2 separate regions of the Homo sapiens genome follow, and region 2 is linked to region 1. A link means that fine-mapping ties the variant in region 1 to the expression of a gene that starts in the linked region. Tissue or cell type: whole blood. Region 1 holds a variant in brackets; the other region holds the start of a gene. All regions are shown on one strand. Distances are between the middles of the regions. Region 1 overlaps ACSM6 (acyl-CoA synthetase medium chain family member 6). Region 2 holds the start of CYP2C8 (cytochrome P450 family 2 subfamily C member 8).

The links. PIP is the estimated chance that this variant, and not a neighbour inherited with it, causes the effect. A credible set is the group of variants that fine-mapping cannot tell apart.
Region 2: it holds the start of CYP2C8, and the variant in region 1 is the best candidate, but not a certain one, in a credible set for the expression of CYP2C8 in whole blood (TOPMed, PIP 0.77).

Annotation. Positions count from the first base shown.
Region 1 is chr10:95,217,444-95,221,847 of GRCh38, reverse strand. It overlaps ACSM6 (acyl-CoA synthetase medium chain family member 6), which reads right to left. Exons shown (of 11, transcript NM_207321.3): 9 at 1,877-1,957. The region is part of intron 3 of LOC107984257 (a long non-coding RNA gene); the gene reads left to right. Among named protein-coding and RNA genes, the nearest start is that of ACSM6, 25 kb to the right of the region's middle. The variant T/A (reference allele first, on the strand shown) is at 2,478.
Region 2 is chr10:95,067,914-95,072,317 of GRCh38, reverse strand. It overlaps CYP2C8 (cytochrome P450 family 2 subfamily C member 8), which reads left to right and starts at 2,821. Exons shown (of 9, transcript NM_000770.3): 1 at 2,821-3,083. The coding sequence starts at 2,916. RefSeq lists a cis regulatory region at 986-1,006 and a promoter at 1-2,916.

The DNA.
Region 1 (4,404 bases):
TTGCTGTGTCTTTTGAGATTATCATGTCATCTTTGTCCCTCATTCTGGTAGAATGCATCTGTGAAGGCATTTGGTGCTGGGCTTTTCTTTGTTGGAAGGTTTTTGATTACTAATTTAATCTCTTTGTTAGTTATTGGTATGTTCTGACTTTTTAATTCTTTATGATTCAGTCTTGGTAGGTTGTATGTTTTTAGGACTTTATCCATTTTTTCTAAGTGGTCTATTTTGTTGACATATAATTTTTTTCCTTTCTTTTTTTTTGAGATGGAGTTTTGCTCTTGTCACCCAGGCTGGAGTGCAGTGGCATGATCTTGGCTCCCTGCAACCCCCGCCTGCTGAGTTCAAGGGATTCTCCTGCCTCAGCCTGCTGAGTAGCTGAGATTACAGGCATCTGCCATCACACCCGGCTAATTTTTGTATTTTTGTAAAGACGGGGTTTCACCATGTTGGCCAGGATGGTCTTGAACTCTTGACCTCAAGTGATCCACTGGCCTCGGCCTCCGAAAGTGCTGGGATTTCAGGCATGCACCACCACACCTGGCTTTGTTGACATATAATTATTCATAGGGATTCTATAGGGATTCTTCACATTTCTATGGCATGAGTTGGAGTTTCTCCTCTTTCACTTCTGATTTTATTTCTTTGTGTATTTTTCTCATTTGTTTTTCTTAGTTCTAAGGTTTGTTGATTTTGTAGGAAGATTTTTTTTCTAAGAAAATCCTAAGGAACATTTTATTTTTCAATTTCATTTATTTCATTTTTGTTTATACTTTAGTATGCAAGGAACATTTTAATTTTTTCTTATTTTTTGAGAGGAAAATTACATGCTCATTTTATTCATGTCTCTAAATGCAAAGGCCCAAACAAATAAAAATTAAGAAATTAAATCCAAGAAAATAAAAAGAAAGAAATGCAACGAAAATTTAACATTTGAAAATATTTTTAATTAACTCTATTAATAGAGAAAAACTATTTTACCTTTTTAATAGGATCAGAAAACACATTTAATATAATGTAGTACCTATTCATGATTACTGGAAAAAACAAACATATAAACCTCAATGTATTAGGTTAACTTCCACATCCTGTTAAATAATATGTAGTGAAACTGGATAGGCAAACAAAAAACAAAAAATAGAACTCTACAGTAAACATTATCTTTAACAAAATTGGGTCAATTTCAGAATGATACAATAGTTAAAGTAAATACTAATATTTGTTTCATTCAGGTTGAGAACTTACTATTTCCTTTTGACCAATGTTAAAAAAAGGCGAGATAGGCGTGAAAGCAAAGGACTATCTTAAAATGAATAATGGTAATTTCATAAGTGCTGCTAATTTGAGTCTGCTTTTATGTAATAAAATCCTAGACACAGCATTTGCCCTACCATCTTAGTATTGCTTCCTATGCCCATACTGTGAATTCAGCTACATCATTTGGGAATCACATTACAGTATTTATAATAATCGACACCCGAGCAGCTGACTAGTGGCTTAGACTTCCCACTTTAGTATATTTTTAGTTCAAGTACAGAATGCTTATTATGGTGCATTCAAAATAGTTGTCTTTATTTTGCACATATCTTTTTAATAGCAATTTTTTTTATTCGATTTCTCCATATTTGAAACTTGAACTACATTAAAGGGATATTCTGCAAAATTGTCAGCATCTCCTTCCCTCATTCCTGTGTCTGGGCTTTGTATTCCAAAAGGATATTGAGGTGGAAATAAAAGCAATAATGTGAGATTATCCTTGGGGTGAATTTAGAGAATGGTGGACTTTCCTCATTGCCTACCTTTATGTCAGAAATTTAGATAAACAACTGTAAGAGCTCACTTAATAATATCTGTCATAATCATTACTATGATCTCCTACCTGGACAATATAAGGTGGCAATGGCTTCCCCAGAGAGCTTGGCTTCAATTTTATTGTTTTGGAAGTGGCACAGAGTAGACCCTGTTCAAAGAAATGCAGACAAGTTTTTCTTTAAAAAAGCAATAAATTAATGGATCTAGTTATTGATCATAACCAGACATTATGTGCCTCCTAACAGAACAACATTACACAGTCTAACAAGTAATCTTGATTAAAAAAAAATCAAGCAGGAGTGTGACTAAATTAACCTCTAGGTCAATTTACAGGAAATGCAGGGGAACAGAAGAACATGTAAACCATACTGCAATTAGCAAAATCCAGGCTGTGAAATATTCAAAAGAACCAACAACTCAGTTTTTTAAAATAACAAATTCAAGGAAAAAAGAAGGTAATGAGGAAATTCATAGATTAAAAGATACACAAAAGTCTTACCAACTAGCCACAATGTGTGTGCTTAATTGGAACAAATGGTAGCAAGAAAACATGCATGACTTAGATGATGGATGAAAATGTCAGTGGTAGATATTTGTTAATAAAAGGCAATTACTGTTAACTTTCAGGTATAATTGGAGAATATGTTTGTTTTTTAGTGCCTTTTTTT[T/A]AAATATACTAAAGCTATTTATGAGAAAATATTGTTTTTGGGATTGTAGAGGAGTAATGATAAAACAGGATTAGGTAATAATTGATGAAATGGGCAGTGGATGCATGGGAATTCAAATACAGTTTTGTCTATTTTTGTCTTTTGAGATTTTCAATAATAAATGTCTCAAAAATAAGTAATTGTTGGCTGCTGAGAAATACTTCAGCATACATGCAGGGCACCCCAAAGAGGGCACAGAGGTCTACCTTGGAGGACATGAGAACTGGATCTTGGATGAGTCAACCATGGGTGTAATGGGATGGAGAAAATTTTATTTATTAGAATTTTACCCCTAAAGTGCTGGGACTATAGGCATGAGCCACTGTTCCCAGCCTAGAACAGGAATTATTTCTGTCTTCTACATAGTTATTTTTCCAGTACCTATTGCTGTGTCTTACACGGAAAGAGACTTAATATTTTCTTGTGTTTACATGCTAACAAATTGGGAGCCCCCAGATTCTGAATGTTTTTGAGGATGGCCATAGTAATCTCTCTCTAGTGTACCGCAGTAACTAGTTTTATGGTTCCTTTAAGAACTCCTCCTTCCCTTCATCTAATCTGGTGGGACTATTAATCATGGTTCTGTAGATCCACTTTTTGGCATGAACAAATGTCTCAGGTTAGGCCCCTTAAGTTATAGTCCAAGGGAAAAGCATATGACAGAAGCATGGACAATCAGAGTCTGTTCCAAGAATTTTCCAAAGTAGAGGTAGAAGTAGGGCTATTTTGATCTTGTCTGAAGGAGTGGTGACTCCAGAGTTGCTGGTGTTAATCTTGTCTGCTTTGTGGAAGAAACTCATCAGAGAACAACTCAGAGAAAAAAGCAGATGGAGCAATTGAGAGGGAGAGAAAGAGAGAGCTGATGTTTTAAGAGTTTTTTTAGTCCTGGTGTTTTGGCCTCTCCAGTCTTGATTCCGTAAGCCTTGAAGCTATTCCCAGCAAAATGGACTTATAATTTCCACTTTTGCTCAGGCTTGTTTGAAATATGTTTCCATCACTTGCATCCCAAATAATGCTCACAAAACACAAGACTCCTTAGCTATTGCCAGTACATTACAATTAAATGGAAGATGTACATTTTCTCCCATGCAGGTTGTGTGACTAACTAAAAATGCCAAGTTTATTAGGTGTTGCTGGAGTCATATCAACTTAGTGTATCAACCTTGCCTTATTTCAGATGTTCTGAGTGTCAGTTATATTTGTATTTCATAAAAAGAAAGATAAAGCCAAAATCATTACTGCCTAAGATGTGCTGTTTTCTTGCTAGACAGAATCATTCACAACCTGAGATCAGTGGGGAAATACAATGCAATGAGTCCTGGGTGCTGAAAATGTCAACTCTTTGGATGTAATTAAATGGATCTGTGAGTGTAGTATAGACAGAATCTGAGACAGAATTTGATCATTTCTCAAGTTCCCTCTTTTACAGTTTTGAATTGTAACTTGCGTACCAAGCGTGAGCTTGACTATGAGGTCTCAAAGTTTTGAACCTTGTGTTCTGAATTTTCTTTAGCTTTCTAAGTGAGGATGTTTCCTGAGCCATATGGAACTACATAGCTCCACCAGGGTCCTCAAACTATAGACCTCTCCCCAGAGCCTAGGCTATCAATTTGGCTGTTTTGTCTTCTCCCACACAGTCTGAGGTTTTCTTAGTCACCAAAGAATTTTTTTTGGACGTATGACAGAACTAAGTCCTATAAAAAGGCTTTGGTGTTACCAAGATTATGGAATTCCCTTCTTAGTATAATTAATAAAAACAGTAGTAATATATAAAACAAATGTAAGAAATCCCCCTGCCCCCCACCACAAATTCTTATTTCTCCCATGCTATTTGAATGTTTTAAAAACATTGGGTATTCAATTCTCTCAAAAATATTTTGTGTTTTTG
Region 2 (4,404 bases), 150 kb after region 1:
AGAGAATACGCAGAGCATGGGGGGTTTTTAGGACAGCAAATCTATTCTGTATGATGCTACGATGGTGGATATATGGCATTATACATCAGTCAAATTTATAGAATGTACAACACAAACAGTAAACCCTATGTGAACTTCGAACTTTGGTTGATGATTATGTCTTATTGTTGGCTCACTGACTGTAACTAATGAACCCCACTGATGGGGGTTGTTGATTGTGGGAAAGACTATTTGTAGGTGTGGTGAAGGGGTTTGTGGGAACTGTTGCTCGGAGCCTAAAATTGCTATAAAAATAAATTCTATTAATTAAAAAAAAACCCCGCTCTAATTCACAACCCTATCCAAGCTGAGGTGGGTGTCAATCTGTGACTGTAGAGGGCTTAATTAATGCTAATACACTCTTGATCATTTGGACTTAGGTGGGAATTCTATAGGATAGGGTATTTCACTGAACCACCAAGCAGGAAAACTGGGATTCTAATACAAAATCTTTTACTGGTGCATTGATAATGCTCTAACTCACTGAGTCACCAATTGCTCATTCCTGAAAAACAAAGCAAAATTAAATTAGTAGATCTCAGAGATCCCGTCTGTCTTTAAATTATCTATGTTCCTTTTATTCTATAAAAAGAAAGGTCAAGGCAGGAGCCTCAGCTCAGGAGAAGAAACAAGGAGCAGAGCAAGGGCAACTGTTTCTCAAGGAATAAAATTATTGCTCTAAAGAGAGAAAGTGAACTTATTTTATCCAAATAAACTAGCTTATACCTACGTGAGTGAGGCAGCAAATTACTACTTCCCTTTGCCCTGGATAAAGGGTTCACCAGGACCTGGACTCACTCACCTTTTAAAGGTTATAAAACCAAACACGTCTGACCCACATTTTACTCAACTGGTGCTAGAATTATTAACTAAATTAATGTTTATTTTGAAAGTCACTGATTAGATTAATCCACAAGTATTGAATTTTAGTCAATCTTGGTGGCCCGGTTTAACTGGATGTTTTGCTTAAAAGGAAGGCAGCAAGATGCAGGGGTTATGGTTTCCAGCCCCAGCTTGGTCACTTGCATTCTGTGTGTCCTTAGCTAAAGTACTGAATCTCCATGGTCTAACTTTCTCCTCTCTAAACTGGGAATAATTTTACAGTGGGCAAAGATAATTGAGAGAATAAAAAGAGATGTGATGAGTGTGAAAATTCTCTGTAAATTTGTCATAATGTCTATAAACATAATCGATAAAACATTGTATAACTGGGTCTTAATATTTTCTTAATGAAAGAGCTGGAAATAACTGTACTGGTCAATTTAGAATAAAGGTAATCTTTTCAGAGCATGCCTTTGTATACACACTTTGTTATTAGTGATCTAGTAATGTTCATAAATCCAGTTGTATTTAGATCTTCATGACCATTGACTATCAGTTCCCATTTCAGGTCTGCACATTGCAGTGGTTCTGTGCCCTGGGTCCATTCAGTGATTTCCCTGTGTTCCATCTTCTGTTGAATCCACAACTGTTGTTCTGTGTATAATTTCTCTTCCTTGCTGTGTATGATTACATTCTATTATTTGTAACAATAACAGACCAAAAACAATAGAAGCAGCCATGTCTGGAGGTGACTGGAAGGTGGAGAAGCCATAGATTTTCAAGCCCTGTGCCATAAATTATGTGAGATTGGCCCTTTCCTTAATAGTGCTGAACAACTTTCACTTGTGAGGTGATGCAGAGGGGAGAACTCTAATTTTTATTTCTTCTTTTGAGCGTCTCCGGTCCTCTTATCCTTATAAACAAATAACGGACTTCTATTTAATGTGAAGCCTGTTGCTTTCTGAACAGAGTCAAGGTGGCGTATCTTCAGAGTAACTAATGTCTGGGGTTTGTTTTGTTTTTCTAAAATTGTTCTTGAGCCAGCTGTGGTGTAAGTGGTAATGAACCCCAATGGGTATCAGAAGATCTCTGCTCAAATCCCGGTTTTACCGGCAATGAGCTGTGTGGCACTGACAGGTGTCCTGTTCTCCCAGAGTTTCTTTCCCAATTTGAAAAATAAAAAATGATAATCTTTATACTCCAGTCTCTTTTAATGATGAATATACATTTATATATATACTTTTATATATTTAATATAATATTTAATAGTATAAATATGTATTTATGTTATTATTATGTAATAATGTATGTAACACTCCCTGCTAATTCAGTTTGTCTCTTTGACATGTAAAGTAAATAATCACCTATTATTATAATAATGTAATAATAACACAAATATTATTATGTAATAACATATATATTTATGTATATTGTTTATATACATTTAAATATATATAAATATACATTTATTAGCTAATAATTTGATATATGTATGGTAATTCAACATGTATGAGTTATATTCACTATTTCATGTTTAGGCAGCTGTATTTTAAGTGAACTATACTAAATATTTGAAAGGCTTTTGTTATCAAGGGCTAAGTCTCCTATTTTTTGATATAGCATTACAATGTACATTTTTTATACACAAAATATAGAATACACTGATTTCCCTCAAGGTCATAAATTCCCAACTGGTCATTAATCTGAGAATATTGAATTTTGAGTATATTCTAACATAGAATCATTTACTTCAGTGTTTCTCCATCATCACAGCACATTGGAACAACCAGGGACTTTTAATTAAAAATACCTGGGCTCCAATCCAATACAATTAAACCAGAATCTCCTAGATTGGCACTGGAAAGAAGGAGTAGGACAAAAGAACATTTTATTTCTATCCATGGGCCAAAGTCCACTCAGAAAAAAAGTATAAATTGGATCTAGGTGATTGTTTACTTTACATGTCAAAGAGACACACACTAAATTAGCAGGGAGTGTTATAAAAACTTTGGAGTGCAAGCTCACAGCTGTCTTAATAAGAAGAGAAGGCTTCAATGGAACCTTTTGTGGTCCTGGTGCTGTGTCTCTCTTTTATGCTTCTCTTTTCACTCTGGAGACAGAGCTGTAGGAGAAGGAAGCTCCCTCCTGGCCCCACTCCTCTTCCTATTATTGGAAATATGCTACAGATAGATGTTAAGGACATCTGCAAATCTTTCACCAATGTAAGTCTGCCTTATGTTCCTCCAGCCAATTGCAAAGGGTAAGTTATTTGACTGCTATTTTTAGACAAAATATATTCCTGGAAGCACACTATTATAATAGATCATTGTAAAGCAAAATACTCCCTCTGAACTTCTTTGATGTTTCTTTTGTCTTCCTATTTTTTTTTTTTTTGAGACGGAGTCTCGCTCTATTGCCCAGGCTGGAGTGCAGTGGCACTATCTCCACTCACTGCAAGCTCTGCCTCCCAGGTTCACACCATTCTCCTGCCTCAGCCTCCCCCGAGTAACTGGGACTACAGGTGCCCTCCACCATGCCCGGCTAATTTTTTGTATGTTTTAGTAGAGACAGGGTTTCACCGTGTTAGCCAGAATGGTCTCAGTCTCCTGACCTCATGATCTGCCTGCCTTGGCCTCCCAAAGTGCTGGGATTACATGTGTGAGCCACCGTACCTGGCCTCTTTTGTCTTTCTAAGTCTGTCATTGTCAGAAATAGCGGAGTGAGTTGATGCATTTTGTGAATACAGAAACATTGGGGTCATTGTATTATATAATCATTTAATACAGTGGCAAAAGTTTAAAGTGCTGTTTCTCCTCTTTGTTTCACAGTGTTTTGCTATGATTTTTGACTGAAGGTGAAGGGAAGTGTGTGTGATTAGAAATTTCATCCAATAAGTTCTCTACTATAGTAGTCATGTGTTTTATTCAGAATGGTCATGAAAATTGAACTTCTCTGAAGATTCATTTGATGGCTGATGTGAAATAAATATCTGTGGGTTCAGGGCAAACATAAGTGCATGAAAGAAAGAAGTAATCAGTCAGGGCCCAATAGGTAGTTAACAGAATTCTTTTGGATTCTGAAGAAAGCCACTGTCTGTGGCCAAGGTTGCTGGAGAATGGAAGAAATTGTTCTTCCAGGAGATGCTGAATGTCCTGATTCTAACTTTGTGGTGCTTCATCGTTCCATATTGGTAATACCAGCAGTTACAAACTGGACTGGGCATTAGAATCACCTGGGGTGACACTGTAAATACAGATTTCTAGGGTTCATCACAGGACTGCTGTATCAGAATCCTCATGTTAAGAGCTTTACAAGTGACCCTGAAGTCTTTAGCTGGGTAGTGGCCTCAAGGTGGACATGGGGGATTGATTAATTGCTCAAGCATCAGTTTAAATTAGCAGAGATTCCAGTTTGGAGCTTCTACATATTACCTGTGGGACTCTGAGAATGAATCTGCAATTCTCTGGCCTCAGTTTCTTCATTTTTAAAACAGGTCAAATGAATGTGCTGAATGTGTTGAAGTGAGGATGAACTGTGTGATTT